2 separate regions of the Homo sapiens genome follow, and region 2 is linked to region 1. Evidence: fine-mapped expression QTL. A gene starts in region 1. The other region holds a variant in brackets. All regions are shown on one strand. Distances are between the middles of the regions. Region 1 holds the start of NEURL1 (neuralized E3 ubiquitin protein ligase 1). Region 2 overlaps NEURL1 (neuralized E3 ubiquitin protein ligase 1).

Region 1 (15,958 bases):
GCTACAGGGGCAGGATAATACAGCGATCACAATAATAAACTCTAAAGTCTGAGAGCCCTGGCTTTGAATCCCAGCCCCATCAGTTTCTAACTGTGTGGACTGGGATAAGTTACTTAACCTCTCTTAGCCCCTTTTCCCCCATCTGTAAAACAGTGACAATGCTACCTCCTTCTGTAGGTTGTTGGGAGGGTATTAATGGAAATAATCCACATATAAGAACTTGGTACAAAGTAACCACCCAGTGCATGGTAGCTATTGTAAATATTATTATGATAATTAACATAACAGGGTTCAAAGGTAAAACCGAACTGAAAACCAACAGGGCATGCAGGATGGGTGCTCTGGGTTCAACACGGGGCTGACGCAGCCAGTCACTCTGAGGAGGCCACCAGGCACCCCCTAGATCCGTCTGCTGCATTCCCGGGGGTGGAGAGCTGGATGAGCTCACCTAATCTGCAAGCGTCATGACAACCAAGGAAGGAGCCCAGACAAGAGCTGAGGGAAGATCTGTGGGTTGACCAAAGAATGGAGACCTTGAATATCCCATTATGGTGACTGAAGCGGGGAAGGGTATGATGAAGATAGTACTTTGGGAGAATCACTCCGGCAGCATCGAAGGAGGGACCGGAGGCAGAGAAGCCAATTAGGATGGCAGCTGTGGCAATATCTGGGATGAGGACTCAGATAGGGGAAGTAGCAGCGAGAATGTGAATGCAGAAAAATGGCTAGAGGCTGAGCACAGTGGCCCCAGCATTTTGGGAGGCCAAGGCAGGAGGTCTGCTTGAGTCCAGGAGTTCCAGACCATCCTGGGCAACATGGCAAGATGCCATCTCTTAAAAAAAAACCTACAGAAATAAGCCAGGAGTGGTGGCGTGGGCCTGTGGTCCCAGCTACTTGGGAGGCTGAGGCAGGAGGATCACTTGAGCCCAGGAGGTTGAGGCTTCAATGAGCCAAGATCCACCACTGCACTCCAGCTGAAAGAAAAGAAAAGAAAAGAAAAGAAGGAAGGGAAGGAGGAAGGAAGGGAAGGAAAGAAGGAAGGAAGGAAGGAGGGAAGAAGAGAAGGAAGGAAGGAAGGGAGGGAAGGAGGGAGGGAGGGAGAGAAAGAAAAATAGCTAAGACCTTGTCCAAGGATGAGCCTTCCCCTGCCCCTGCTCTCATCCCCAGAGAGTAGTGAGGAAATTCAGGGTCTACAGACACTCTGGCCCACCACAAGAATCAAGACCCTTAGTCAACCTTTGCAGCTTCTCCTTCAGCCCCCCAGCAGCCTCAGCCATCATAGAAAAGAGACTGAAAACAACAGGTGTCTCGCTGGCGTCACACCCAGCCAGAGCTGGAGGGGGACGGCCTTCCTACAACTGTCACAACCAGTGACTTTGTGAAGTATCCAATTCAAGAAGCACCACCTTTTGAAAGATGGGAGGTGTACTCTTAGGTGTATACCCAGAAGAACCGAAAACAGGTGTTCAAACAAAGACTTAGACACAGATGTTCATAGCAGCATTATTCATGAAAACCAAAAGGTAGAAACATCCTAAAGTCCACCAACTGATGAATGGATAAGTGAAATGTGGCATACTCTTACAATAGAATATTATTCAACCACAAAAGGAAAAAAGGTGCACGCTACAACATGGATGAAACTTGAAAAGATTATGCTAAGTAAAAGACGCTTGACACAAAAGGACAAATATTGTATCCTTCCATGTATATTAAACGCCTGGAATAGGCGAGTCCATACAGACAAAGAGTAGATTCGTGGTTTCCAGGGATTCAGGGGAGAGGGTAACAGGAGTGACTGCTTAATGGGCATGGCATTTCCTTTTGGGATGATAAAAATATTCTGGAATTAGGTAGAGGCGGTGGTTGTACAATATTGTAAATGTACTAAATGCCACTGAATTATACATTTTAAAATGGTAAATTTCAGGTTATATAAATTTTACAATAAAAAACAATGGGCCTGGCGCGGTGGCTCACACCTGTAATCCCAGCACTTTGGGAGGCCGAGGCGGGCGGATCACAAGGTCAGGAGATCGAGACCATCCTGGCTAACACGGTGAAACTCCATCTCTACTAAAAATACAAAAAATTAGCCGGGCGCGGTGGCGGGCGCCTGTAGTCCCAGCTACTCGGGAGGCTGAGGCGGGAGAAGGCGTGAACCCGGGAGGCGGAGCTTGCAGTGAGCCGAGATCGCGCCACTGCACTCCAGCCTGGGCGACAGAGCGAGACTCCGTCTCAAAAATAAAAAATAAAAGGAGGTAGCCCATCCAGTCAGGCACTCAGAAAGACCTGGGCAAGGAGGAAAATCTTTATTCTTTGTATTTTTCTCCAAGAGGCATGAACCTCCTGTGCACCCTACCCCAGTCACTCTGTGCCCCTCACTGAAAATATATACATAACTTCCATATACATATACTTTCTATTTCATGTAATATATAGATATACGCTCAAGCCCCTCCAAGCCTTTACTGTCAGTGCCTTTCCCCCTTCTTCCACACCCTAGGACTCTGCTGCATCCCTTGCTTTCTGTCCAGTTCCTGCAGTTCCCTCCATGTCCAGCTCAGATCCTCCCCTGATACCCCTTGTCTGACCTCTGCCCACATATCTGGGTTTCGACAGTACAACCAAGCAAACACTTGATTCCATTCACTCCCTCATCCATGCCTTTTGAGTAGATCTCCAGCCTGGGAAAGCCCAGGGGTGTCTTATCTCTGAGCTGGGCACATGGGAGCTCCTCGGGCACTGCCTGTTGGTTCTAAGCCCAGAGCTACACCGTGGACCTCTCCCCTGAACACTCCTAGACCAACGCTGTTCAGAACCCAGTGGGAATCACCAGCAGCAGAGTGGGGTCAGTGTGTTCCCAGGAAGAAGACCAAAGTCTATCACCCGAGAGGCGATGGTGGGGTCCCATGTCCCATGTCATGTCAGCCTAACAGCCAGACCAATCTTAGATCTCCAATCAGTCCCAGGATCCCCATTATACCAGGTCCCTTCCAGTTGTTTTAATTAAAATGGTGAGGAATCAAGAGACTGAAATTATGTAAGGAGAGAAAAAAATCAAGACAGTCACTCCACCCCTACTCCCAGCAAATTTCTGGATGAGCACTGACAAGAATTAGAGATGAATTCAAGCTGAGTACAGACGCCATCCCAGCAGAACTCTGGCTAGGCAGTTAGCATCACAGCCTATCAGGTCAACACCAACACAATTAGAATGAACTTCTGGCTGACCACTGATATACCAGAGAAGACTCGTAGGTCAATGCTGATACATTTAGAAGAGAATTGGGAATAAACACTAAACAATTACAGAATAAAGGTGATGGCTCTATTAGGGTAGAAAGACGGGAAGAAGTCCTTAGAAGTCAAGCTGAGAAGGAGGATCAGTGGACCTTGGGTGAAGGACAGAGCCAACAACTGGCGGCCTTCATGGGTACCTTCTGTCCTTCATTTCAGGCTTAGTAGGGGCGGGATCAAAATTCCCATGGTCACCTACAGTGGTGTGTGGATGGGGCCCCCACTCCTGCCTTCTGCCAAAGACCCTAGCCACAGAGACCTCAGATCCCCACAATTCCAAATTTTAGATTAAAAAGATGCAATTAGTTGGGAGCTCTCTGGGTTTCCACAGAGTCAAGGATGGAGCAAGACCTTCTCAGGAAGATAGTCTGTGAATATTAAGGGCCAACTAACCCCTGCCCCCAGCTAACCCTTGCCCCCTGAAGGACAGGGCCAAGTTTTGCCACTTTAATTTGGGCAAATAATTATTCTTTTCCCTCATTATTCTCACTTGCAGAGAAGGTTGAGCTGAACGATATTCATAGGTTCATTAGGAATCTGTTTCCAATGCTCAGAAACAGTCTTCATACTTGCTAACACTGATAGCTTATTTCTGATTACAAAAATAATACTTCCTTATTATAGAAATTTTAGAAAAGAGCAAAATATAAAAAAGAAAAAATGCAATCCCATATGATCCTATACCCAGAGGAAATAATTGTTAACCCTTTGGAAACTTTACAAGCATTTTTGCTTGTTTTGTTTTTGTTGGGGTTTTTTGCATTCACACCACTTTTTAAACAAAATTGGGATCATACAGTCTTCACAACTTTGTATTCTGTCGTTATACTGTGAGCATTTTCCACAGTCATCAACTATTCTTCACAAATATAATTGTAATCACTGCATAGTACTCTACCAAGAATATATACCATGATTACTGAGCATTTAGGTTATCCACCTAGTATAAATAACACTGCCATGAACATCCTAGCCTAGTGCCATAAGTATATATTCCTGCATCTCCACTTCCTTAGTATCAATTCCTCAAGGTAGAATTACAAGGTCAACAAACTGATTTTTTTTTTTTTTTTAGCAAGACAGAGTCTCGCTCTGTCGCTCAGGCTGGAGTGCAGTGGAACGATCTCAGCTCACTGCAACTTCCATCTGCCAGATTCAAGGGATTCTCCTGCCTATCTGCCTCCCAAGTAGCTGGGATCATAGGCACGCACCACTATGCCCGGCTAATTTTTGTATTTTTAGTAGAGACAGTGTTTCGCCATGTTGGCCAGGCTGGTCTGGAACTCCTGACCTCAAGTGATCCACCTGCCTCAGCCTCCCAAAGTGCTCGGATTACAGGCGTGAGCCACCGCACCCTGCCAACAAATTGATATTTTTAAAGTATCTTGACATGTATTGCCATATTAATTTCCAGAAAGACACAACAAATCCACTGATTTTCCTGAGCCAAGTGAAAGCTGAAGTTCTGAAAGAGCTGGAGTATTAGAATGCAGGACAGTGGTCCTATCTCTCCTCCTCTTCCCTGGTCTTAAAAGTTAACTGTTCAGCAAAAGAAGGGACAGAATTCCAAGTCAAAAGATAGGGGTCTACAGCCTAGCACCTAGCGCCGAGGTCTGGCTGGCTTTGGGAACCTGAAGCAAGCCTTGGTTCTCCTCATCTGTAAAATGGGTATAGTGTGATTAGCTCTGCTCTGCTGACTACCCCAAGCAGTGTCCATGCTCACTGAAAATGTGTTTGAGAAAGTTCGATGCCTTGTGTTAAAGGGCACTATTGTTATCCTTCTCATAACCTGAGGAGCTTAGGAAGTGGGGTATTCTTTCTGAAAGCCCAAGGGCTTCCCTTCCTGGCTTTTAGCCATCATGCCCAGGACAAGTGCCACTGGTTCTGAGGTGACAGAAAAGCACCTTCCGGAAGGAATTTAGTAGGGTCTGAGGGCCCGGGAGGACCCAGCAGTGTCTTCCAAAGGTCAGAGACAGCATTGGAAGATCCAAGACAGGAATGGCAGGCTCCGAATGGGGAGACTGGGCCTAGGGCCACCCTGAGGGTGCTGAGTGGATCTGGGGAGGTGAAGAGCAAAGACATTCCTAGTAAATGTCCCTCTGTTTCAAGGCTCCCAGACCCTCTTTTCTAGGGCTCTGACTGGATATCTGGTCTTTGGGAAAACCAGAAATCAAACTAATTCAATGGATGCAAAAACCCAACGGCTGCAAAGGACCCCAGGAACCAGCAGCTCTGACCCTTTCTTCCAGGCTGCTGTAATCCTGTCCTGAATTTTTAAAACCCTCCCATTGGAAATGCAACTAGTGCTCCCAGCCTGGTCTCTCCAGCCCTAGGGCCGATGGAAAGGAGACCCATCGAGGTGCCTCCCTGGAGACACGGACGACCCAAGCTTCCCTCCTCACTCCCCACTCCCCTATCGACCTGGCAAACATCCTTTCCCATCTCTTCAGGCTCGCCTAAGACCATGGCCTGAGGGGACTCCAGTGACGTTCCCAGTGCCAGCAGACAGAACTGCGCAGACCCCGCGGGACGCCATCCTCCATCACCATCATCGCCGGCTGCCCTCCACCCCCAGCCCACTCCACGGCCAGAGGTGCATCTCCGGCCTCCAGACACGCACAACAGGTGGCGTCTGCCCGCCCTCCCCAACCACACCTCCCTGGCCCTCCACCTGCGCCCCAGTCCTCCAGCAGCGCTCGGCCGGGGAGCCTACCTTTGAGGTTCTGGGGGTGGCCCCGCGGCGCGCGGCTCGGGTTTCCTCGGGGCAGCGAGGGGATACTGGAGAAGTTGTTACCCATGGCATCCGGCCCCAGGAGGTTCGGCGCTCGCGGGTGGGGGCGAGGCCGGGCAGGCGCTGAGGTGCGGTGTGCGAGTGTGCGCGCGCGGGTGCGCGCCACCGGGGGAGGGCCCTGCTGGGGCTGCAGCCGGGGGCGGGCGGGCAGCTCCTCAGCTTCCTTTCTCTGGACTTCGCGGTCCTTGGCGGGTTCCGCCCGCCACGGGTGTCCTGGCGCAGGCTGGGCTACCTGCCTCCCATGCCCCGTGGCGGGAGCGGGGGCCACAAGCAGGGCCCTGGGCCGGGGCCGGGGACGCCCGGGGCTCCCCGCTTGCTCCCCGGGACGCTAGGGTTCCGGCTGGGGGTGGGCGGCGCGGCGGCTCCGGCGCGCTCCCCCGGGGCCATAGAGTCAGGGTCGCTGGCGTGGGCGTTCGGCGGCTCCGAGGCAGGCTCGGTTACCGCCCCGCGGAGACGGCCGCGGCGGCGATGTGCGTGGCTCCCTCCCGCCCGCGGGTCTGCGTGGAGCGGGGCTCGGCGGAGCGCGGGGCGTTCTGGGCGCTCCGACGCAGCTGGTGTCCCCCGACCGCCGCGGTCCCGCCCGCGCCGGGTCCCTCCTGCGACCGCCGCCCCCGCCCCCCGCCCCGGCAGTCTCCAGGATTCCCTCGCTCCGGTTGTTATGGTGACAGCTGCGCCGGTGAATGAGCGTCTTAGTGACACGCGCGCGCCCGCTAGGCCAGATGTGGCCCCGGGGCGCGCCGCGTTCCCGTAGCCGCAAGCTCTCGGCGGCGCGGGTCGGGGTAAGACATCAGGCGAGTATGGTGGCACCCGGGGCTGGCCTTATTCCCAGCACGGAAACATGGAACTTGCACTTGAAAACAAGGGGAGCAGGGCCGCGAGAACGCCGAGCTCCCCGGATGCGGGGGCGGGCGAGCCAGCACTAATGTTCGGTTTCCCTAGCTCCAGGTACCGGGCCTGGCGCAGAGTGGAGAGCCCAGGGAAACATGTAAATGAGCGAGCGGATGCTTGGATAAAGTAATTGAGATTAGAACCCCGGCACTTGACCCTCCGTTCTCAGCCAGGCTAGGGGCACTAGGGCAAGGGTTCAGAGCAGGAACCCCGGGCAGTCTCACTGATGCACAGATGCCACTGAGGGCCTTTGAATGCCCGCGGACCAGACTCACAAGCCTGGAGCTCTGGCCAAGCTGAGGGAACAGATCTCCGGGACAGATCATCAGAAGACCACCAGCTCTGAACTGAGTGGTTCTGTTAGCTATAACAAGGTGGGGGAGAGGAGCCTCTGCAGCCTATGGCAGTCAAAGAAGGCTTCCTGGAGGAAGGGGGTTTCAGCAAGGGCCCTGCTCATGTGGCTAGTGCCTTCCTGTAGCTCAACACTGCACCAAGAAGCCTTCAGGAAGGGAAACAGAAGTCATTCTTCTCCTTCCTGGACCCGGGGCATCTCTCCTGGTCTATCAGGGATGGAAGATGTTCCAAGGTTCCCCCCAGGGAATCAGACTTCCTGCTCCTCTAAGTCATCTCTAGCTCCCTGCTCTGGCTTCAGCAACTCAGATCCAGAGTCCAGTGAAGACATGGGTGGGCAGGGGGACATCTCATGTATCCTTTTCTGTAATAAAGGTTCTTCCCCCAAGTCTCCATTTGGCAGCTCCTCATTATCTAGGCACAATTCGTGTCCTGACATTCCCTGACTGCCCCAACTAAAGGACCCCCTCCACTGTCAGTCACTTTCCACAATATTCCATTTTATTTTCATCATAGCTTTTATATGGAACTTGTTTACAAGTAGCCTTTCCTCGTTTATCTTCTGCCTCCCTGCTAGAACATAAGCTCTGTGAGGGGAGAGCACAGGTCAGTCGTGTTCACCAGGGTGTCCTTACCCACTGGGGGAATGCCTGGCATGTGACAGATTCTCAGAAAATAATTGTGGAATGCATGCTTCCCACTGTGGGCCAGGAGGCTCCACTGAGATCCCTGGGGGCAGAGCCTCCTGAACCACCCTTTATTTTCCTCTCCTACTCTCCTCTCTCCATCCCCATTCCAGGCATTCTACCCTTAAATGTCTGGGACTCCAGGCAAGCTAGAAATATCTGTGACAGCCACTGTCTCTCTGGAATCTGGAGGGAAAGGCAGCCCCGAACCCGGCCTCCAGCCTCCCAGATGCCCAGGATCACGTGTGCAGGCAGCTGCAGATGGCCACAGCAGGTCAGGGATGGCTGTCTTATTTATGGGCAGTATCTTCCCAAGGCTCACTCCCAGCTAATGACTCATGCATCAGAAATCCACAGGCTCTTAATGGCAACACACTCACACATGTGCTAACACACCGCTACACTATCTCACACACTCACACCTATACAAGCACACACACTTATATTCCCCCTGAAATCTGCCGGAATGAAGTCACTGTGAGTGGCCACTAGAATCAGGCCTTTCACAAGTTAGAACAAATATGAGGACTCTGCATAGTTGAGACTCATCCTGCTAGAGTGTGTTTGAAGTACAAGGGCCTAGCTAGGATTTACAGACGGTGGCTCCAGGGAAGCCTGGTGTGGGCAGGGGAATGGGGGAGGGGATGAGGCCCCAAAGGTAGAGCACAGCAGGGATGTCTTGAACTGCTGACCTCAGGTGATCCACCTGCCTCGGACTCCCAAAGTACTGGGATTACAGGCATGAGCCACCGCGCCTGACAAAGGGATGTCACAGGCCCCACATGGCCTAGACCTGGGGCTATGGGCAAAGCAGGGGAGAGAGGAAGACGTCAAAGGGAAGGAGGGAAGTGAAGGCCAGAGGCGGATGCTCACCTGAGTCCAGAGGCAGCCCAGGTTCTGCAGTTCAGGGCAGCGTGATCCCAGGGAGTCCCAAAGGAAGGTGAGAGGCGTCAGGGACAAAGGCAGGGAACTGAGGGTTGAGGAGCTGATGGGAGTATCAATAGGGCTGGGATAGGATGAGGTAGCCAAGGCATCCCTGGCGCAAAATTGAAGAAGGCGCCAACTCTCAAGTTCATGCAGATACCAAGCTTGCACTTGCGCGAGCCTGGGAATTAGGTCCTCTTATATTTCACGCCCTAGGCCCCTCTCTACCTTCACCCTAGTACTTCAGGGAGCTCTGTACTGGAAGAGGGGACACCACTGTTAGAGTCAACTAGGTCTCTGGCCAGGAAGGGACCTAGAGGAGGTTGGTGTGGCTGCATAGGACTCAGAGAAGTTGAGCGTGGCCCTTCTGAGGAGTCCTGTGCCCCAGCAACTCCTCCCTGGCAGGGACTTAGGGTAGACCCAGCTCAGAGGGTTAAAGAAGGCCAGCAGTCTCCTTACCCCCAGACCTTGGGCAGAACTCAGAGGCCTTCCTGCCATCCTTCCCCAAGGCAGCTCATAGGGGTGGGGTGCCTGGGTGGTGGCTCTGATCCAGAAGACCCTTCCCAGACCCATCCTGGAAGGGAAGAGGAAGAAGGAAACTGCCAGGGAGACTGGGGCTGATGAAGTCACTGTTTTGATGGCTTCAGGGGAAGCTATTAATACCCACAAGGTGATGCTCCAGCACCAGTCACCGTGGCAACACCCACACACCCAGCAGTGCAGATTCTGCGGGCAGTGCCTGAGGGGGTGGGTGTCAGTGCACACGTGTGCACTTTCGCGAACACCTGTGTCCTTGTATGTGCATGCGTAGGTGTTGTGAGTGCACACACAGGCATGCAGGAGAGGGAGGCCCCAGGCAGGGACCTGAGGAAGCTTCCTTCAACAGCAGCTCCACTCCCACCTTCCCTTCCTTCCCTGTTGCTCTCTTCTTGCTGATTTCTCTTTTTTTTTTTTTTATACAGAGTCTTGCCCAGTGGGAGCACAGTGGCACGATCTCAGCTCACTGCAATCTTGCAACCTCCACCTTCCAGGTTCAAGCAATTCTCCAACCTCAGCTTCCCGAGTAGCTGGGACTACAGGCACACACCATCATGTCCAGCTAATTTTTTTTCCTTCTTTTTTTTTTTTTTTTTTTGAGACGGAGTCTCGCTGTGTCACCCAGGCTGGAGTGCAGTGGCGCGATCTCAGCTCACTGCAAACTCCGCCCCCTGGGTTCACGCCATTCTCCTGCCTCAGCCTCCTGAGTAGCTGGGAATACAGGTGCCTGCCACTACGCCCGGCTAATTTTTTGCATATTTGGTGGAGATGGGGTTTCACCGTGTTAGCCAGGATGGTCTCAATCTCCTTACCTCGTGATCCACCCGCCTCGGCCTCCCAAAGTGCTGGGATTACAGGCATGAGCCACCGTGCCCAGCCAATTTTTGTATTTTTAATTGAGATGGGGTTTCACCGTGTTGGCCAGGTTGGTCCCTAACTCCTGACCTCAAGTGATCCGCCCGCCTCAGCCTCCCAAAGTGCTGGGATTACAGGAGTGAGCCACCGCACCTGGCCCTTGCTGGTTTCTTTCACTCTCTACCCCCTTCCCACCCCCTCTCGTCTTTCCCCCTGCCCTTCCTTCTCTGCTTCTTCCCACCCTGGTCACTTTCTCTCCTTGCAACCTCTGTTCTTCCCACCCTGGCTGTCCGCTCCTGCCTGGTTCGCCTCTCTCTACCTCCCTTCCTCTTTCTCTCTCTCCATAGCTTCCAGATCCATTCAAGTCTTGAAGAGTTACCGCGTTGATAAAATAATAGCATATTTAACTGAGAGTCTACTCCCTTCCCTGAGCCTCTGGATACTGAGTTCAGAACCAACCAGAGTGATGACCTTTCCTCAGGCAGACAAAAGTGGGGCGCCTCTAGGCCAAGCTGGACTCCCCTGAATTGAGACCACCCTAGTCAATGGCATGACACCTCCCTCCAGGCAGAGAAATTAACCTTAAAATGGGAAACAGCCACAACTATCCCTGGCTACCACAGGTAGCACCCTCCCATTCCCCAAGTCCCAGCCCATTGTTTCATTTTGTTTGGGTTTTGTTTATTTGTTTGTTTGTTTGAGACAGAGTCTAACTCTATCACCCAGGCTGGAGTGCAGTGGCATGATCTCAGCTCACTGCAACCTCTCCTCCTGGGTTCAAGCAATTCTCGTGCCTCAGCCTCCTGAGTAGCTGGGATTGCAGGTGCGTGCCATCACGGTCAGCTAATTTTTGTATTTTTAGAAGAGACAGGATTTTGCCATGTTGGCCAGGCTGGTCTTGAACTCCTGACCTCAATTGATCTGCCCACCTTGGCCTCCCAAAGTGCTGGGATTACAGGCGTGAGCCACTGCACTCCGCCTGGTTTTGGTATTTAGAGCTGAGGGTCTCACTCTGTCACCAGGCTGGAATGCAGAGGCGTGATCATAGCTCACTGCAACCTCGACCTCCTGGGCTCAAACGATGCTCCCACCTCAATCTCGAGTAGCTGGGACTACAGGCATGCGCCACCACACCTGACTAATTTTTTATTTATTTGTGTTTTGTAAGAGATGAGAGCTCAGTTTGTTGCTCAGGCTGGTCTTGAACTCCTGGCTTCAGGTCCCGACTAGGCCACCCAAAGCTCTGGGATTATAGGCATGTGCCACCATGTCCACCCAGCCACCAGCCCATAGTTAATCAGACTATCAGAAAAGCTGTCGGGGGAGAGGGTGGTGTCCTGTCTGAACTTCAGGGGGTGGCTGGACAAGTTGGAGGGGTAGATCTCTGAGTGCCTGTGCCTGATGCCTAGTGCATACTCAATAACTAGTTATTAAATAAATGAATGAATAAAGAAATGGATGGATTAAGCTGTCGGGCCCTCCCTCTGAAGGATGGAAGTCTGTGCTGCCCATTTTAGGATGGAATGGGCCCTATGCCATCTTATTCCCAGGTATTTTTGGGATTCAGCTTCACTCATTGCCCAGTGACCATTTATTGAGCACTACCTGTATCCCTGGCGCTGATGAGATGCAGTTTCCTTGCTAGCACCATGGGGCAGCCTGTCCTCTGCTTTTTGTGCACTCCAGTCCCAGTTCCCCACCTCCCAGGCCCAGGTTCAGAGCTGAACATACAGCAGGTCTGACCGCATAGCTGGGCTGGGCACGTTGCTCTGAGCTCCAAACTTTTTTGATCACGCACCCCTAGCAGTAATAAATTTTTAAAGTGTGTACACCAATATATGTATATTTCTTTATTTATAATTTCTAAAAATGCACTACTGTATTCATATTATGTATATTATGAAACATAGACTAATGATATTGAAAAAGGGATCATCTTGCCCTCCTCCTGGGGTGCACACACACTCTAGACTAATAATTCTCAAACTTAAACGTGCATCAGAATCATCTATGAGGCCTTGGGGAGAGGGGGAGAAAGTTACTAAAATGCAGACTCCCAGACCTCACCCCTTGAGACTTAGATTGAGCAGAGTATGATACAGGTCATTTATTGATTACACATTGGGAAACTGCTCCACATGGTCACATGTTCTAGTTGTGAAGACGGTGTTTAAAGAAGGCCTACAGGCTTTCTCGGGGGAAAGCTGGACACCCCATGGGGACCAGGCCAGTGCTGGCTGCCACACAAGCAGGGCTAACTTATTGGAAGAGGTGACTGTGCAAGGAGGTAGCAGGGGTGAATCCCAGCCCCTTCCTCTGCCCCACAGACAAACTTGCCCTCTGGGAGGTGGCCCCTGAATCCAGGATCAGTTGTGAGGTCTTCATAGACCCCCAAACTCTTATTTTGGAGCCCAACCCTGTCAGGCCAAATGTACTAAAATATACCGCATTCCACATTAAACATCATTTTCTTGCAGTAAACATTTTGAAAGGATTTTTACAAATTTGGCTTTTGGAATCACTGGATGACAAGGGACTCACTGAATTTACAACTGGTTTTATTTCTAAGCAATCATGCGTGTGCTGGATGCCTTGCCAAGTGAGAAAAAAACTATGTTTGTCTTCAAATATAATGAAATGTTTATGAGTACTACATTTAGCAATCAATGACATTGATACAACAAAGGCATTTAAGTGAACATTTATTAATTTTGGTTTGAAGTTTTCCTTTCATAACTTGAGGACAGTAATGTTTTTTTCTGGTCTCAAGCAGATGCTTTAAAAGTTCATAGGCTTAAGTACCCATAGCACCCATGGAAAAAATCCAGACCTGAGGCCAAGCACTCCCAAGACTGTATCTGAAAGGACGGAAGGAGGTTCCTCCATGAAGCAGAAAGGAAAATGCCCAGTGTTGGCCGGTCACAGTGACTCACGCCTGTAATTCCAGCACTTTGGGAGGCCGAGGTGGGCCGATCACCTGAGGTCAGGAGTTTGAGACCAGCCTGGCCAACATGGCGAAACCCCATCTCTACTAAAAATATGAAAAATTAGCCAGGCATGGTGGCTCATGCCTGTAGTCCCAGCTACTTGGGAGGCTGAGGCAAGAGAATCACTTGAACCCTGGAGGTGGAGGTTGCAGTGAGCTGAGACCCCACCACTGCACTCCAGACTGGGCAACACAGCAAGACCCCATCTCAAAAAAAAAAAGGAAAAAAAAGAAAATGCCCAATGTCGGAAAGAGGACAGTGTGTCTCCATCTGAGACAGTTGTGTACTGACTTCAAAGTCCAGCATCAGTTGATCTATCCCAGGGCCACTTGCTCAGATAACTGTGACAGGTGACATTTATGAAGCACTTACTCATGTGTCCCAGGCCTTGGTCTAAGCACTTCAGATGCATTAGTTCATTTAAGTCTGGAAACAACCCTGTGAGATAGGTACTATTTTTGTTCTTGTTATTATTACTATTATTATTCCTATTTTACAAATAAAAATCCCGAGGCTTCAGGAGGCTAAGTCACTTGCCTAGGAGCTGATGGGGGAGGCGTGGAGGCACAGCCCTAGGACAGCCTGAGTCCTGATTCCCATGATACTGTGCCTGCACCAGGGTGGAATTCCTTCACGTCCCTAGCCTGAGGGAGACACCTGTGGCAAAGGAGGCCTCCTCACTGAGCTCCTGAACCAGCCCCCTCCTGCTTGAGGACACCTAAGATGCCTGGTGGCTTCAGCTCAGCTTTCTGGAAGTTAGCCAGGGAGCACACAGCTACTGATGAACACAAAACAGAGTAAAAAGACAATAAAATCAAAGAAAGATGCTCGAAATGGCTGCAGTACCCCCAGCATCCTCTTTTCTCTCACAGATGTTTTAAGTGGCCTTTACTTGGCAGGATGGCCCTTCCAAGAACGTTACAAAGACCAGAGAATCATAAAAGAAAAGTATGATAAATATGACCACATAAAAGTGTAACACTCCTTCATGGCCAAAGTTGAAAGACAAATAGGAGTCAGGAGGCATCTCTCCAAGAAGCCAGCAGCCTTAAATCACACCAAATGCCTTTAGCGTGAGACCCAGGACAGGGAGCAGACTTTTCTCCAATTGCTGCTGGCAGTGTGACATCTCCCTTTCACGCACCCTTCCCCAGAGCAGTCCCAGAGCACACCCAAGGGCAGCTCTCTTCCCAGGGACGATAGCTGGGGGAAGTTTTTCTCATAGCCAAAAGAGCAGACCTGCTGTGTGTCCCGCCTCTCCCTTCCTCTCACCCCAGTTCCTCCCTCCAGCCACCACTAGGTGACACTACAACTCCATTGGAATCCCCTTTGTCTCTGACAAACGTTTTTGGGGAGCCCTCAAGCCATTCAAAACACCTTAAAAATGTTTACCAGAGCCAGGCGCGGTAGCTCACACCTGTAATCCCAGCACTTTGGGAGGCCGAGGCGGGTGGATCACCTGAGGTTGGGAGTTCGAGACCAGCCTGACCAACATGGAGATACGCCGTCTCTACTAAAAATACAAAATTAGTGGGGCGTGGTGGCGCATGCCACTGAGTAGCTGGGTGGTGCATCCCAGCTACTCGGGAGGCTGAAGCAAGAAAATCGCTTGAACCCAGGAGGTAGAGGTTGCAGTGAGCCGAGATTGCGCTATTGCACTCCAGCCTGGGCAACAAGAGTGAAACTCCGTCTAAAAAAAAAAAAAAAGTTTATGAGGCCAGGTGCGGTGGCTCATGCCTGTAATCTCAGAACTTTGGGAGGCTGAGGTGGGCGGATCGCTTGAGCCCAAGAGTTCAAGACCAGCCTGGGCAACATAGTGAGAACTCATTTCTACCAAAGAAACAAAAATTAGCCAGGTGTGATGGTGTGCACCTGTAGACCCACCTACTCAGGAGGCTGAGGTAGGAGGATCACCTGAGCCTGGGGAGGTTGAGACTGCAACGAGCAGTGATCACGCCACTGCACTCCAGCCTAGGCGAGGGAGACCCTGTCTCAAAACAAAAATATATAAATAAATAAATGTTTACGGATTGCTCTTTTCCTCTTTCAAAATGAAAAGAGTTTTGCTGGGAAAACATATACCCTTCTAGTTTCCATTGGCTACTTCATGGTAAAGAAAATATACCGTTGAGGAAACTGGCCCCCTCTTCAATCACTGAGATGTTCCCCTCTGAGTATGTGCCCTTCACTGAGGCCACGTTTTACCTTTCATCCTGAGATGGGGTCTCCGGCAGCAGAGGAGCTCTCCCTGTCATGGTGACCGTAGGACAGAAGGCCAAAGCTCCCTGCAGAGACTCTCTCCCAGGACTGAGGCCGAGGCTCCCCAAACTTCAGCTGAGTCACAGTCCTCCAGAGCACCGCTACTCACACCGGGATGCCCCTCTGGCTGTGTCCAGTTACCCAGTATGGGCATCTGCGTAAGCCCAGCCCCTGGCACTCCGCAGATGCCCAGGGAACGTCTGTCACTACATGGCCAGAGCTTGAGGGTGTGTAGTCAACAACAGAGGTGCTTCCTAGCCTGGCCCTCTGTGCACCCGATCACCCCCAGAGCTGAAACTCTATCCAGGTGCCCTCTTCCCCCAAAGCAGCCTGCCTGTCTTTGCCCCCAGGTCTCTGCATTTGGCCCAACATGTAGTGTC
Region 2 (15,958 bases), 65 kb before region 1:
GCTCAGGTCTGTAATCCCAGCACTTTGGGAGGCCAAGGCAGGCTGATCACATGAGCCCAGGAGTTCGAGACCAGCCTGGGCAACATGGCAAAACCCCTTCTCTACAAAAAAACTACAAAACTTAGCCAGACATGGTGGTGTACACCTGCAGTCCCAGCTGCTCAGGTGACTAAGGCGGGAGGATCACTTGAGCCTGGAAAGTTGCAGGGAGCCGTGAGAGCACCATTGCACTCTATCCTGGGCAATAGAGCAAGACCCTGTCTCAAACAAAAAATTAAATTTAAAAGTAAAATCTATAATACAACTAACAAGTCACATCTTCATTCAGACGGAGAGAAGAGAGGCTGCACTTTCTCACCACCACGGCACCCCCATCAGCTCACCCTGGGCAGTGCCTAGGATGTGGCCATCTACCAGAAGAGCCCCAGTGCTTAGTTGGGCCTGTCACCCTAACCCTTAAGTTCCTTCCACAGCTGTGAAACAGAACGGGGGTTCCCTGCCCCAGGTATGGAGAGAGAGCACTTCATAGCTGCAAAGCCCCACCCACTGATTACCGTGCCTGTCTTCTGCCAGGCCCGGCCCGGCCTGAGCAGCTGTCCTCAGCCCCTTCTGTCTGTACTCAGCTCGCTGTGTGATCATCACCCACTGAGCCACCTCTGGGGAGACCACTTGAAAAGCCTCTCTGGTGTGCTGGGCATCTCCTGCCATGGACTGTGGGCTCCTGTCACGTGGCAGGCCCCAGCTGCCCTCCTGACCTGCCCCTCCCTGTTCCTGGCTCCAGGGGAGCCCCTGAGCACCCCTCACCCCATCTACCAATCCTGCCTCAGGAATAAGCACCCCTGGGTTCTGTCCTCTCCTGTCCACCCTGCGGCTACAGCCCTAACTCAGGCCTCGCCACTCTTCTAAACCAGGGCTGGGGCCGCGATGCGCTGTGCCCAGCACTCCTCTAGGGGGCGCTGTTCTCATGGACTATGAGTGTCCAATGTGCAGCCTTCATCAGGGTGACCCCCCTCCTACCCCACTGCAGTGTCCCTGCTCCTGCTACCCCCTCCTCCATCCTGGCATTAAAATCTTGGAGGCAGGGAGTGGGGTGGCAAGCAGAAAGCAAAATGAGAATGAACTTTGGACATAGCTCTGATGCCAAGGGTCCAGAGGGGACAGCTGGAGGTGGGGCTTCCCCCCTACACTATGTAACAGGGTCCCTCCCAGCACTGGGACTATGACCCTTTAAGGTCCCTATTCTACGAATGAAGGAGTTGGATTCGGAATGGTTAAGCAACTCACTTGTGGTCACACAGCAGTTATGTGGCAGAACTGGGACTTGAACCCTGGTCTTCCAAAGCCATGTCTGGGGACCTTTACCCTACTCAGCCTGTGGTACTAGAGCTCCTTTTCCCCACGAGTCCAAGACAGCAGGCAATTCGGGGAAGGCTGTGTGCAGGAGGGGCTGGGCAGCCCAGGCTAGGGGAGCAGCTGCAGCAAAGTGCCTCAAAATGGGGGGGGCGTGTGGGCTGCACAACTGCTCTACAGAGGCACACACAACTGGATGGAGCCCCAGTTGTGCCACGTGGCTCTCAGCAGAGCTCCCAGGGAGGGCCCTCAAGTGACAGGTTTACAGGCTTCTTGGGAGCCCCAGTGGGGGCACCCTCCTCAGGCGAGGCTGCTGCTGACATGGTGGAAACTCCCCCGACAGCCCCATTCCTCCTGGGCATTTATGAGCTGCCAGACACAAGCCTGGCCAGCTCTCCGGGTGACCCTCAGCTGGCAGACCACATTCCTGCCTCTCAGCGGGGTCCCAGGGCAGACGCCTTGACACACATACCCTCCGGAGTGACCTCCCCATGGCCCCCACCAAGCTCTGCCCCAGAACCACTGGCAGAGACCCAGATGCCCTAGGCTGGGCTCAGCTGGGCTGCCAAGGAGAGATGGGGGGGAGCTCACCACCCCAGCCAAGAGCAGAGGCACTGATACTGATGACAGTGCCCAGCCTCTCATGGCTTCAAGGGCAGTGTCTTGATTTATGCCCCCAATGCCACTCTGGCACAGATCCTCTGAAGTTAGGTTTACACATTGAGTGAGGAGCCCAGATCTGAACCCAGGGCTGGCTGCCTCCAAACCTAGCAGCTCTGTCACTAACTGTAAGACCTTGGGAGCCTCACTTTCCTCATCTGTAAAATGGGGTCATGGCAGGCCTTCATGGGATTCTTGTGAGGATTAAAATAGATGGTGTTTGTAAAACTCAGTAGGTAGTTGCTATTATTATTATTATTACTATTTATATCATTCTGCTTTCCTATCCCCACACCTTTGCTCAAGCCATTCCCTCTGCCTCATCTGCGCCTCTCCAAACCCCACCCATCTTTCAAGGCCCAGCTGAAGCCCACTGCATCCAAGATCATCTTGTTCTGAATCTGTGGTCCTGAATACCAGTGCTGGCATCATCATCTTCATCCAAGAGACAGTCTCGTCTCACTTTCTGGGCGGTGGGGCGAGGCACAGAGAATGAGTATTGGAGGCAAGAGGCCGTGGGTTCAAACCCTGACCAGGCCACAGACTTGCTGTGTGACTTTGGACAAGTTGCTTCACCTCTCTGGACCTTGATTTATTTCTCTGTAAAATGAAGCTCATCATAGCTGCCCTGCCCACCTCTCTAGGCTGTAGTGAGGCCCCGGTAAGTTTATAGATGTGAAAGAATTTTGCAAACTTTAACACTTGATCGCAACATAAGGTCTTTTTTAAAAATATAAAAGCAAACATAACTACTGCAGGAAATGATCGGCTCATTTCAGTCCAATGGGAGACTAGGAACTTCAGTCTTATTTTACCCCAAACGTCCTAATCTCAGATTGCCAGGGTGGTCCTGATATGGACTCGTTTAACTGCATTAACTGAACAGGGCTCCCTCTGGGGGAAAGGATTTAGGAGAATGGTTGGAAAGCTGGGGATGCCTGACTCCTGGTGGGAGAAGGACAGGTGGGGATGGAACTTGGGGGACAGAGATGATTGTAAAACTGGGCAGAATTAAACTTCTTTGGGTTCCCTAAAGGGGCCTCCACCTCCCACACCTGTCTTTGATTTCCAGGCTTGGCCCAGGCCCATTTCTGTGCTGGGAACATTTCCTTCCTCCTTCCCACCTATATATCTGCCTTTCTCATGCATCCTTCGGACGTAGATTTTTCCCAGAAGTCTCTCTGACCCCCAGACTAGGTTAGGGGCCTTACTATGGACCTTTGAGGACCCCATCAGCCCCCTAACAGAGGACGCATCACCAAGCAGCCTTTCCCAATCCTGGTTCTTACACAAGATTAAGCCCAGATACCCCGAGGCACTTGTTGTATGCAATGCATTGACTTGTCTCTTCTGCATCCAGAATGATTTTGGTTCTATGCCATCCTCAGGAGAGTTGAGAAGTCACTCCCATCAGCTTCTGTGTTCTGCAGAGTAGCACTGCACTGGGAAAGGCTGCAAGGTTATTTGTGCCTGTCTTTCCCCCTGATGGACTGTGAGCCTCCCTAGGGCAGAGACCACTTTCTTTTTTTGTTTGTTTGTTTGCTTTGAGACGGAGTCTGGCTCGGTCACCCAGGGTGGAGAGTCGTGGCGTGATCTTGGCTCACTGCAACCTCCGCCTCCCAGGTTCAAGTGATTCTCCTGCCTCGGCCTCCTGAGTAGCTGGGATTACAGGCGCGAGCCACCACGCCTGGCTAATTTTTGTATTTTTAGTAGAGACGGGGTTTTACTATGTTGGTCAGGCTGGTCTCGAACTCCTGACCTCATGATCTGCCCGCCTAGGCCTCCCAAAATGCTGGGATTACAGGCGTAAGCCATGGTGCCCAGAGCCATTGTCTTTTTTACTACTGTATCCCTATAGCCTAGTTCACAGCATATAGCAGGTCCTCAATAAAAGTTACTGAATGAATTGCTAGTGTTTGATTCTTCTATCTACTGATGAATTGGCAGGAGTTCAGGCAGCACCCACTTCGTGCCTTGCCCTTTCTGGTGTCCGGTGGAGAAATTAGAAAAAGAAAGGAATAAAGGGAGCAGCTCCCTTCCCTGCCTAGCATGCCTGACTACAGCCCTGCCTGCTCAAGAACCTTCAATAGCTCCTCACTTGCCAGCAGTAGAAAAGAAGCAGATAAGGAAGGCCATGAGGGTTGATTCTTTCTTGTGTATCAAATGCTGCAGCATTTGCCCTTCATACACAACCTGATCACACCCTCCAATCCCTGCAAGGCAGGTGTCTATGGGAACAGCCTCTAAAATGGCCCCAACAATCCCTGCATCCACCTCTTGGCATTCAGGCCCTTGTGTGACCCCTTCCCCTTAAGCGTGGGTTGGGCCTAACAAGTAGCTTCGAATGAATAGAATACAGAGGAAGTGGCTGGTGCAGTGGCTCATGCCTGTAATCCCAGCACTTTGGGAGGCCAAGGTGGGCAGATCACCTGAGGTCAGGAGATCGAGACCAGCCTGGCCAACATGATAAAACCCCGTCTCTACTAAAAATACAAAAAAATTAGCCAGGTATGGTGGCGGGCACCTGTAATCCCAGCTACTTGGGAGGCTGAGGCAGGAGAATTGCTTGAATCCAGGAGGTGGAGGTTGCAGTGAGCTGAGATCACACCACTGCACTCTAGCCTGGGTGAGAAGAGTGAGACTCTGTCTCGAAAAAAAAAAAAAAAGGAATACAGAGGAAGTAATGGAATGTCACACCCAAGACTGGGTTATAAAAAGACTGTGGCTCCCATCTTGGTTACTCTCTTGCCTCTCCTGAATTGCTCCCTCGGGGGGAAGCCAGCTGCCACGGTGTGGGGCCACCCCATGGAGAAGCCCGTGTGGCAAGGGACCAAGGACTGCCCATAGCCACGTGAGTAAGCTTGGCAAGCCTTGCGAAGCAGCCACAGCCAACAATGTGATTGCAACCTCATGACAGACATGAAGCCGGAGGCACCTAGCTAAACAGTGCAGAGATTCCTGAGCCACAGAAACTGGGAGATCATTAAATGTTTGTTGTTTTAAGCTGCTAAGTTTTGGAATAATTTGTTAAGCAGCAATAGATGACTAAAACAGTATCAATAGTCCCATTTCACAGATAAGGAAACAGAGGCTCTGAGAGGCAATAACTTGCCCAAGGTCACATAGCTGGTAAGTGGCAGAGCTGGGCTCTGAACTCAGATCTGTCGCACTGGTGCAGAGGTTCCTCCACGGGCTCCAGCTAGCTAACTGGCATGCTCAGTCCCCTCTCTCCTCCTAAGTTAGTTTCTCCATGAACACCACAGCCCCTGTGCATGCCCAGGGTGGGGGCCATGTTAGCACCCTGGCACCTCCCACAGAGTTCCTGGCATGCGAACGGCAGGTCCTGCTGCTCCCTGGAAGATGAATGAACTCATCATGACAGGGTGGGTGAAAGAAAGTGGCAGGCAACGGTTAAGACTGGCACCTTCATAGTCAAGTTAATCCCCAACTGAGCCTCCTGCTCTCACTCACTCTGCAACATCCCCATCCTGACATTTCTAGCAGCCAGAGGTTATACAGCTGTGCCTCCCAATTCCTCACTGCTCTGGGAGAAGGACCAGTCCTCCTCCTCTCCCTCTTGTGTCCCACCTCAAGATTCCAGGAGGGGACTCCAAATGTTAATTCTTCAGGGCTCAGCTCCCAATCCCTGCCCCAGTCCTTCCAGCCCCCCAGGCCAGGCCTGGAGAATGAGGGGAAGTGCAGCCCAGTAACATCAGCACCCCTAGCTCCCCATATCAAATCCACAGTCATGCATGTGTACATGCGTGCACACACACAGATGGCACGTGTGCCTCATGGCAGACACAACCAATGTGCAGGGCTGGGGGACAGAGGCAGCAGGTGAGTGTGTATGTGTGTGTGCATGCGTGTATGTGTGTGTGCGTGTGTTTATGTGTGCACTTGTGTGTATGTGTGCATGTGTGCGTGCATTGTGTATATGTGTGCATGTGCATATGTGTATATATGTGCGTGCATGTACGTGTGTGTGCATGTGTGTAATATGTGTGTGCATGTGTGTGTTGTGTGTGTGCATGCATGTGTGTATGTGTGTGCGTATGTGTACATGTACATGTGTGTGTGTGCGCACATATGTGTGTGCATGCACTGGCAAGCACACACAGACCTAGAGGAGCCTCCACAAAAACCTTCATAAAAGCACACTCTGTGGAGTGCTTACTATGTACCAGGTGTACTGCCCTTAGCGTCCACTGGCTCACTTAATCCTTCCTACAACTCTATAAGGTAAAACTTACCCTTCCCAATTTACAGAAGTGGACGCTGAGATGCAGACAGATGAAGGTACTGACCCAAAGTCACACAGCCAGCAAGAGCAGAACAGGATTCAAACTCTCACCGAGAACACCTGCTCCGCCTTCCCTTCCTTTCCAAATACTGCCTGGCCTCACTGCCCAGCCCTGGCCTCACCTCCCTGATGGCTACCCCACCCACCCCTCAGGCCACCTTCAGCTCCAACTGCCCTGCCGTCCAGCAGGCAAGGGCCTCTGTCCACCCCACACTCTTCCCCGCTACCCACTGACCCAGCATCTGCTGGGAGCCACTGTGTGCCAGGCGCCAGGCTGAGGTAAGGGAATGCAGAGCTAGAGTGACCGGATGCCCACCTTCCTGGAGCCCACAGGCACGAGCCAGGTGTGGGGATGTGCACCTTCAAGCTCCGGAGCTCCCCTTGGTCTAAGCCCCCAGAGCTGCTGCCGGGAGATAGGTAGCTCCCTCTGCTAATCTTGGGTTTCACAAGGCCACTGGATGCCTTCTCCGCTGCTGCCTGCTTGAGGATTAAGGAACCCAAGAACGGTAAGTGGGGGACCGGCTGCAGAAGGAACAAGTCCTGGCTTCCCCACTGAGGCGCCAGCTGTGTGGCCTCAGTTAGCCATTTCCCTTTCCTGGCCACAGCATCTCCCTCTGTGACAGGAGGGGGTGGGAGCCAATGTCTCGGGTCCCTGTACGCCAGCATCCTCTGACACTCAGGCTTGTTAAATCCAGAGACTAACCTGAGGGTGACATGAATGTCTGGGTGCAGGTGCGTGTGTCACCCACACATCAGCCGTCAGCAAGGGGTCCCTTCCTTGCCCTGAGGGAGCATTGAAGGGAGGTGAAGGA[GGAA/A]GTGGGGGGAAAGGAAGAAGAGAGGACGGCAGAGGCGAGAGGAGGGGGACCTCCCAGTGTCACTGCTGCCTCCCTCTTCGCACTACCCTTCCCGCCCCTGTCAGCCTGCTCTCAAGACCAGGAGCAGCTCTGGAAACCTACCGAATGGAAGAGATCAAGCGTGTAACCGCTTAAACCATTTTCCAAATGGGAATTCATTTCCCCATGGGTCTCCTGCCAGGCTGGTCCCAGAGGAGCCCGACTCCTCACCACCAGCCCCACTACACACACACACACACACACACACACACACACACACACACACACAGGCATGGCACAGGCACAGAGTACCACAGATGTGGCTGCCCCCGCATGGAAACACAGGCCCGGCAACACACAGTCGCTTCAATCCACAGTTAGAGACACATCACACAGGTACACAGAGATCTAAAACACAGATACACATCTGTTGACATCAGAAGCTCAGAGAGCCAAAACACGTCCACAAACAAAACACACAATTAGATGACCCCCGACACACATACAGAGTCCTGGGTCCTCCTGTCACCCTCCCCTCACTCACTTTAACGCAGCAATCCAAAATGTTTGGCCCGAATCAAGCCGAAAGTCCAAGGCCCTAAAGAAAATACAATCAGCCAAGCGCGGTGGCTCACACCTGTAAACCCAGCACTTTGGGAGGCCGACACAGGTGGATCACGAGGTCAGGAATTCAAGACCAGCCTGACCAACATGGTGAAACCCCGTCTCTACTAAAAATACAAAAAATTAGCCGGGCATGGTGGTGGGTGCCTGTGATCCCAGCTACTCGGGAGGCTGAGGCAGAGAATTGCTTGAACTCAGGAGGCAGAGTTTGCAGTGAGCTGAGATCATGCCACTGCACTCCAATCTGGGTGGCAGAGAGAGACTACGTCTCAAAAAAAAAGAAAAGAAAAGAAAAGATAATACAATCAAGGACCATTTCAATGTGTCTTCAGGAGCCCAGCTACAGGCTACGGCACCCCTAGGAAGGAGCAAACCCCTGCGTCTCCCGCTGGCCCCAGCTCATTTCCCAGAAGAAGGTGAAACCAGAGCCGCTGGGGCAGCTAGGGCGTGTGTACAGGTGTGGGCACACATGGGCGTGGATGCATGAGGACGCATATGCAAGGGTTCTGATGGGGGTGGAGGTTGGCTGTGTGGACACAGGCAAACACTCCCTCTCCAGACCTTCCAACTCCTGTCCCCTCTGCTTGTGCAATGGCAAAGGCCCAGGGCCAGCTTAAGGGAGGCCCCGCCTGGGAGGGCGGTCCTGGCAAAAGGGTGGAGGTCAAGGCAGATGTGGCATTTGATGAGCGCTCACTGATGGCCACCTAGCCTGGATGCCCAATTCCTAGAGTTCTTAGAGCACCGCAAGTGATCCTCCTGCCCCCAGGGAAATGGGACAAATGAGAGGGAGGGAATATGACCTTGGGCCCAGGTTGCCTTTCCAAGCCCTCTTGATTTTCCCCATGTTGAGTTCTCTGCTCACATGATTCATGTAATCCTCACAATAATCTTGTTTTCTTTTTTTCTTGAGACGAGGTCTCACTATATTATCCAGGCTGGTCTCGAACTCCTGGGCTCAAGCAATCCTCCCACCTCAGCCTCCAAGGTGTCTGGGATTGCAGGCGTGAACCATCGGGCCTGGCCTGCACAGCAATCTTAGAAGGAGGGTGCTATTACTAGCCTCATTGACAGGTGAGAAAACTGAGGCTCGGGAAGACATTTGCCTTCCTTACAAAACATATCTACCCACTCCCAGAGCATGAGCTAAGGTGGTCTCACCCTCTAGGGAGCCTGTGCTCCAGGCAGCTGGAGGACAGTGTACTATGTCCTGAGTCTGCTCTGAGAGCCTCTCTGTCCTTCCCAGACCACAGGCTTGCCCAAGTCTGACTCCAGTGGAAAATGCCAGTCGGCTCCAGACCCTCTGCCAACAGGCCCCGCCGGGGCCAGCAAGCCCTGAGAAGAGCCCCCACCCCACAGACGGGCAAGGCCAGGCTCAGGTCAGCCCAATCCAACTCTCCGGCCAAGGCCCAGGCCACTGGCAGTGCCCCTGGCCTGGCTCCGGATTATGTGTCTTCCAGGGCCTTCCATCTGTCACTTAGCCCTCCAAACCCAGGACGGAATTCATTTCCTTTTAAGAGAGCCAATGATTTGCTTTTCCTACATCTTTCCCTGTCTTTTTTCTTTTTTAATTAGAAATTACTCTCCCAAAGTCCAGAGCCTGGAAGGGAGAAGCCACCTGGTCACCAGTTCCGGCTGCGGCTGCCCATGCGCTCCTGCCACCACCCTCCTTCCTTCCTGAGCCTCTCCCAGGCTCCTCAGTGCCCACTGGACTCGGCAGATGGACACTGTCCCACCTCCTAATACCCCATCCAAGCAGGGAGCAGGGTACATAGGGGAGTGCGTCAGGGACTCCCCAAGGTCAGCCTATTCTGTTCTGGCTGGTTTGTAAAGGACCCCAGTTCCCAGGGCCCAGGGAAGACACACAAGTCCCTAGGAAGGCTTCTCCGGGTCTGCTGCCACATCGGCCATGGCGCTCCCAAGACCACAGTACTAGAGCTAGGGGAACAAGAGGACAGGGTTTGGAGCAAGCAGGAGCTCTGCAAATGGGGAGCCAGCCAGTGGCCCCCTCTCTTTAACCCCTCCAGCTCCAGGCTGTGGGTCTGTCTGACTGTGGACGTGACCTGCAGGGCTCAGAAGTTCTCTGGCCTCCCCCACAGAGCACACACTTGGAGAAGCGAGGTCAGGCGCTGTGGGGTGCTGTCACTTGCACACCCGTGTGCTTAGGCACAAGCCGGCACAGGTGCACACCCACGGGCACCTTCAGTGCCTACTCACGAGCACAGACACACATGCACACTCAGCACACATGTGGGTGCCCACATGTCTTTGCGGGGCTCCAGCATAGAACACAGCACCATCTCCAAGGCCCACATCCCAGAGCCGACAAGCAGGTCCCCTCAGCTGTCTAACTAACTGTGGCTGCCTCCGTCCCGGGAGAGGTGGGTAGGGAAACCCAGGACCTCGCATCCCACTTGGGGACTAGTCAGCACCTTGGTAAGAGGACAAGGAGGTAAGAGGACAAGGAGGTAAGAGGACAAGGAGACTTTGTGGGGAGCCTCAGCTGCCTGACCTCCCACCATCAGTGGGAGGGCGCCACTGTCAGGGAAGGCACCCCTCTTCCTGCTCTACCCAGCTCCCTTGCTGCCCCCACCCCAGTGCCCACCACCAAAAGGTGCCCCCACACAGCCCCAGACCCCTCCATGGAGTGAGAAGTAGGGGCATGACCAAGCCCTCAGCCCCAGCGCCCCTCCGCCCGGCCTCCCCAGGCGGTCTCGGGCTGGGGTGGGCGGGCCCGCAGGCATCCGCGGGGCCTTACCGTGGAGAGTGCTCCGGGTGATCTGTCCCCCCATCTCCGGCGACGGGCAGTGCAGCCACCTCTGCTGGGCCGGCCGGCTGGTCACCGAGTCGCCCCGGCCGGCTGCTCCCCTCCTCCTCCCCCGTCTCCTCCCCCGCGGGCGGAGACCGGCATGGCAGGGCCGAGGCCCCTCCCGCGCCCCCACGCGCCCCCACGCGCCCCCTCCGGCACACGCGCACGCCGCCCGCCCGCGGCCAGCCGGCCACACGCGCACGCAGCACGCACACCCCTCCGGCCGCCGCCTCCCCGCTCCCACCCACTCCAGCCTCCCCACCTCCCGCGCTGGTACAGCCGATGGGATCTGTCATGTTTATTTACATAAGGAGGAGGAGACTGGAGGCTTCCTGAAATAGCAGCGAGCTCCAGAAAGCGAGCAGAGGCGCGCACACGCACACACATCCCCATCACACACAGCCCCATCTCAGGGATGTAGTGACACACACAGCCCTCCCTGAACGCCCAGGCCGACAGCCATTCATTCACTAGCCTCATGCACCTACTACATGCAGAGGTCCTGCTAGGTGAGAGGGGACCCCCTGGGAAGCAAAACAGACATCGTCCCTGCCCTCAAGAGGTTCACAATCAAGCTGATGGAGCTGTTAACCAAGTGCTAACACCGTTTCTGTCTTCTTCCAGGCTCTGTTCCAAGGGCTTTGCAAGTATTAACTCCTTTGGTCCTCACAGGCTGAATGATGAGGTCAGTATTACAGTCATTATCAACAGATCAACAGGTACCATCTCTAAGATGATGATGATGGTCTTACAGATGAGAAAACTGAGACAAAGAGAGGCTGCTCACCTAAAAGGTGGCAAGGCTGGAATGCAAACCCAGGCAGTGCAGCACCAGAATCCAGGCTTTTCCCCCCCACACCAACCTATCCCTTTAACCATGCACATACACACACACCACACACCCCAACACAGACCTGCACTATTCTTCTGCATCATGTCACACAAATGTGCATATACATGGGCTCATAAGCACTTGGGAGCATTCACCACTGAGCGCACTCAGCCATCTACTGACCACCAGACATGTACTCACATGGTTACATGCACACCTCTCAATGTCCACAGTCAACATACGCCTGCTTCCACAGACTCGCAAAGTTTCTAGAGAAATCTTAAGGTGGACACTGGCACCCCACACTCAGGGAAGAGGGAAAGGTGGGAACAGAGGGGGAAGAGGGAGGCTGGGATGGCAGGCCCCTCCAGCCCTGGGCAGGCATGCCGGGAGCCCAGATCATCATCAAGAGAGCAGCTGCCATGCAATGAGCATGCACCGTGCACCAGGAACTGTGTGGGTGGCAGTGGCTATGATGATATCTGTTTTACAGAGAAGAAAGTGGAGGTTCTGAGAGGCTAAGGAGCTTGCGTGAGGTTACCCAGCAGGTCACAGGCAGGACCAGGACTCAGGCCATGTCTGAGGGACAATGTCACCATCCAACACAAGCTCAGGGGCCTCTACCAGGACAACAGGACAGCACCATCCTCCCTGGCCCTGGCCTGGACACCAGCCCCTGTCCTCAAGGTCTGGGATCTTGGACCCCAGGGAAAGGGCTGGGTGGGAAGAGAAAGCCAGCGGGCAGGTGGGAGGACAGAGGGGTAGGGGCTGAGGAAGGGGCCACGGGAAAGGTGGAGGCTGTCCCACAGCAGATGGAACTCAGAGGCCTGGGCCCTGTAAGGGACTGGACTGGGTCCTGAGCCCGCAGCTCAAGACCCTGCTGCTCCCACTTCTGAGTGGGTCTGGGGAAGCGGTTAGGAGGGACATTCAGGCCTGACCTAGAGTCATCAGCAGAGGGCTGGGCGGGATCTGGGGGAGAGCAAGCCCAGTCGGCCGATGCTCCCCTGAGCCAGAGGCATGCCCACGACTTCCGGGAGAAGCCACGACACCCGAGTCCGCACAAGGCAGCCCACTTTCCACAGGCACATACCGGCTCATAGCTGTGCAGTCACACGTACACACACGCACACACTTCCTGGCACACATACCCAGTTCCCATGGGGGCGGGAAGCTAAGTCAGTCTGACAAGGAGAAAGTAAGCCAAACTCCTTTTGTCGGATAATGATCATAATAACAGCAAACACGAGGTCTTACTGCATGATCCACACTGCCCTGAGCGTGTGACGCATTTAACTTGCTCAATCCTCACGACAACCCTAAGAGATCAGTGTATGTGTATGCCCATTTTACAGATGAGGAAATTGAGGCCAAAAGAAGATGCTTTGGAGGCTGTTCCTGTAGCAGCAGAGTCACCCTCCACACCCTGCCTGCCTTTTAACACACTCAGCTGGCCCCTTGCCCACCAATCCCTCGCACATGCCAGCCTGGCCTTCCTATGGCCCCACACCCAGACATCAGCCTCCCTCTCACCTTGGTTCCTGCCTTCTCCTCACTTGGAATGCCCCCTTCCCATCACCCAGCACTGGGAACACTTCTTCTGGGAAGCCTCCCTAGGGCCCTAGGTAAGAGTAAGTCCCTGTTCTTGGCACTTATATTTCCTCTGAGCTCCTGAGCTGGGCATCTCCTAACACTTACCCTACTCGGTCCTATACAGAGAGAGCCATGGCCTGGCTGGGGCCCTATCTGCTTGCCCCAGCTTCTCCTGGGTGCACCTCAACCATTTAATTCAACTCTACCCACATTTATTGATCCCCTACTATGTGTCAGACACTAAGGATGCAAGGGTGGCCCTCAGTGGCAGGTCCTAGCTCTCGCGGACTTCCAGTCCAGAAGGAAACAGACATTTATCCAGTAGTCTCACTAAGGAGTATATCATCACAACCTGAGAAAAAGGGTCTGAAAGAAAGGAGCAAGGTTCTGGGAGGCTCAGGACAGGCTTTCCTGAAAAGCAACAGTGAAGGCAAGATCTGAAGGCTAATGGCCCTGTGCTGTGGAGGTGGCTTAGGGGAGAGAGTGAGTACAACATAGGCAAAGGCCCTGTGGCTGGAGAGAGCTGGTGTGTTCCAGAAGCAAGGTTGGTATGGAGCAGGGTGAGCAGGAGGAGCCTCAGGAAACGCTCCATTGCCGAGCCAGGATGGGTCAGGGATACACCAGGAGGGTCTTGAGGAGAAGGGCGAAGACTCTGGCCTTCTTCCTGAGAGCAATAGGGAAGTCCTGCAGCAGGGAGGCAACAGACCAGACCCACATTTCAGAAAGTCACTGTCCTATCTGGTTGTGAAGGGTGAGGGAGGAGGCAGGAGGCTCAAGGGGAGGGAGCAGCAGCAGCAACATCCCGCATCCTGCACCCCACAGGGTGAGCCTTGCCTGACTTAGCCTCACTCCCCTCGGGCTTCACATCACTCCTGCCCCTGCCCGGAGCAGGCACTCAGAAAACATCTCACAAACAGACCTGAAATCATGTAATTTTCAGACACAGGACTGTGGGAAAGCAGCCAAGTGGTAAGCAAGCAGGGATGGGGCAGGTTTGGGGCTCCACGAGCTGGAAGTCCTTCAGATGAGCAGCAGCCCCAACTCTGGCCACTTGAGTGAAACAGAACAGAGAACTGGGAGGTGGCCCGAGTGGCCCCCAGGCCTTTGACACTGCAGTCTAAAAGGGTTTTCCCACAGACGTATGAGCCTGTTTCCCACAATCACTTCCCCAAATAGGATGTGGCAATCAATGTCCTGTGTCTGAGGCTTCCCTCTCCTGTCACTTCCTCAGGCAGTGTCCAGGACCTCTAGAGGGAGAGGCAGCCCCGGGATATGGCAGAAGAGCTGCACCCCTTCTCTGTTTTATTCACTGGGGCATCCCATAAAATTTCATTTGGGGCCGGGCACAGTGGCTTACACCTGTAATCCCAGCACTTTGGGAGGCTGAGACGGGTGGATCACTTGAGGTCAGGAGTTCAAGACCAGCCTTGCCAACATGGTGAAACCCCATCTCTACCAAAAATATAAAAAGTTAGCCAGGCGTGGTGGCACACGCCTGTAATCCCAGCTACTGGGGAGGCTGAGGCAGGAGAATCGTGTGAACCCAGGAGGTGGAGGTTGCAGTGAGCCAAGATTGTGCCACTGCAGTCCAGCCTGGGCGACAGAGCGAGACTCCATCTCAAAAAAAAAAAAAAAAAAAAAAATTCATTTGACCAAAGGATTCTGTTACTAAAAGGGTGAGAAAATCACTAACATACATCATTCATTCACTTATTCATTCATCAACCATTCACTGAGTGCCCACTATACACCAACTGGTGAGCAGGACCCAATGCCCACCCTGCAGAAGCCAGGGGTGTAAAACGGGCATGGACGGGGTAACAGGCAGTTCCAGATCCCAGCAGAAGCCAGGCAGGGATTGAGGAATCAGGTTCTTTCAGCTCTGGCTAAATGATCTGTGTTCCATTCTATAGCCGCACTTTGGAAACGATGTGAAAGGGGAATGGAGAGGCTATAAGTAAATATATAGCAGAAGCTATAAATGCTACCATTTATTGATCGCTTACTGTGTGCCAGGCACTGTGCTAAGTATCTTATGTATCAGCCAATCCCAAAACTTCCCTTCAGGAGTTATAATCACCCCCATTTTCGGGCTATAAAACTGAGGCTTAGAGAGGTTATTCTGAAGGCAAGACAAACGAGGCTTCAAACCCAGACCTGCCTGACATCAAAACTCATGCTCCATCCAGGAAAGGGCAACGGGCAGGGGCCCCTCTTGCTTAGAGGAGAGAAGACAAGGGGACAGTGGACCGTCTCCTTAAGGAAGCAGAAGGGTTCTGTATGGCAGCAGAGCCTAGACGTTTTCCAGAAGACAGAAGGTGACATTCCAGGGATGAAGCCTAAATGCAGGTGGAGAACAGGCAGTAAGGCTGGACTTCTCATCCGCTAACAGGTGACCCAGACAGACACTGGAGATGTCATCCTGGAAATTGTGAAGAACACAGACCCATATATGACCTGGGTGGGGACTTAATACCTCAAAGCCTGCAGGCAGGAAGCAGGGCTGGCAGTGCCCCTGGGGGCCTGGTCTGACAGAATCCCCAGCTGCATCTGTCCTCTCATGCCATCTAGGGAACCTTAGGCCCCTTGGCTCTCTGAACCCATTCAGCTCCCAAGGCCCTCCCCACTACTATAGCTGTCCCTCTTTTCCCTGCCATCTCCTGTCCCCTGACCCCTTTCAGACAGCTCCTCTTCCCTTGGGTGCCATCTTGGTTTCCATGATGGTCTACCTAGCTCAAGGCTTTCCTCACCAAGTCCTCTCTCATCCAGGTTCCCCAAGGCCTAGCACCTCATTCCCAGCCTAAACCTGCCCTCTCAGAACTCAAAGTCTAAGGCAGAGCCAGCAACTCCAGAATAAAACATGGAACAAATTCACTGGGGAATAGAAACCATCACAGTCACAGTCACCAAGCTCTCTAATGGGGAAGAGCCTCCAGAGAGCACTGGGGCCAGCCCCTACC

Evidence for each region.
Region 2: its variant is fine-mapped to the expression of NEURL1 in whole blood (TOPMed, PIP above 0.99).

The regions. Positions count from the first base shown.
Region 1 is chr10:103,484,528-103,500,485 of GRCh38, reverse strand. It overlaps NEURL1 (neuralized E3 ubiquitin protein ligase 1), which reads right to left and starts at 6,781. Exons shown (of 6, transcript NM_004210.5): 1 at 6,014-6,781. The coding sequence starts at 6,098. It overlaps NEURL1-AS1 (NEURL1 antisense RNA 1), which reads left to right. Exons shown (of 4, transcript NR_120675.1): 3 at 5,751-5,925. RefSeq lists silencers at 6,103-6,202, 6,283-6,412, 6,423-6,572, 9,802-9,871 and an enhancer at 5,887-6,436.
Region 2 is chr10:103,549,981-103,565,938 of GRCh38, reverse strand. The region is part of intron 1 of NEURL1 (neuralized E3 ubiquitin protein ligase 1); the gene reads right to left. Among named protein-coding and RNA genes, the nearest start is that of NEURL1-AS1, 41 kb to the right of the region's middle. RefSeq lists an enhancer at 1,177-2,157. The variant GGAA/A (reference allele first, on the strand shown) is at 7,126.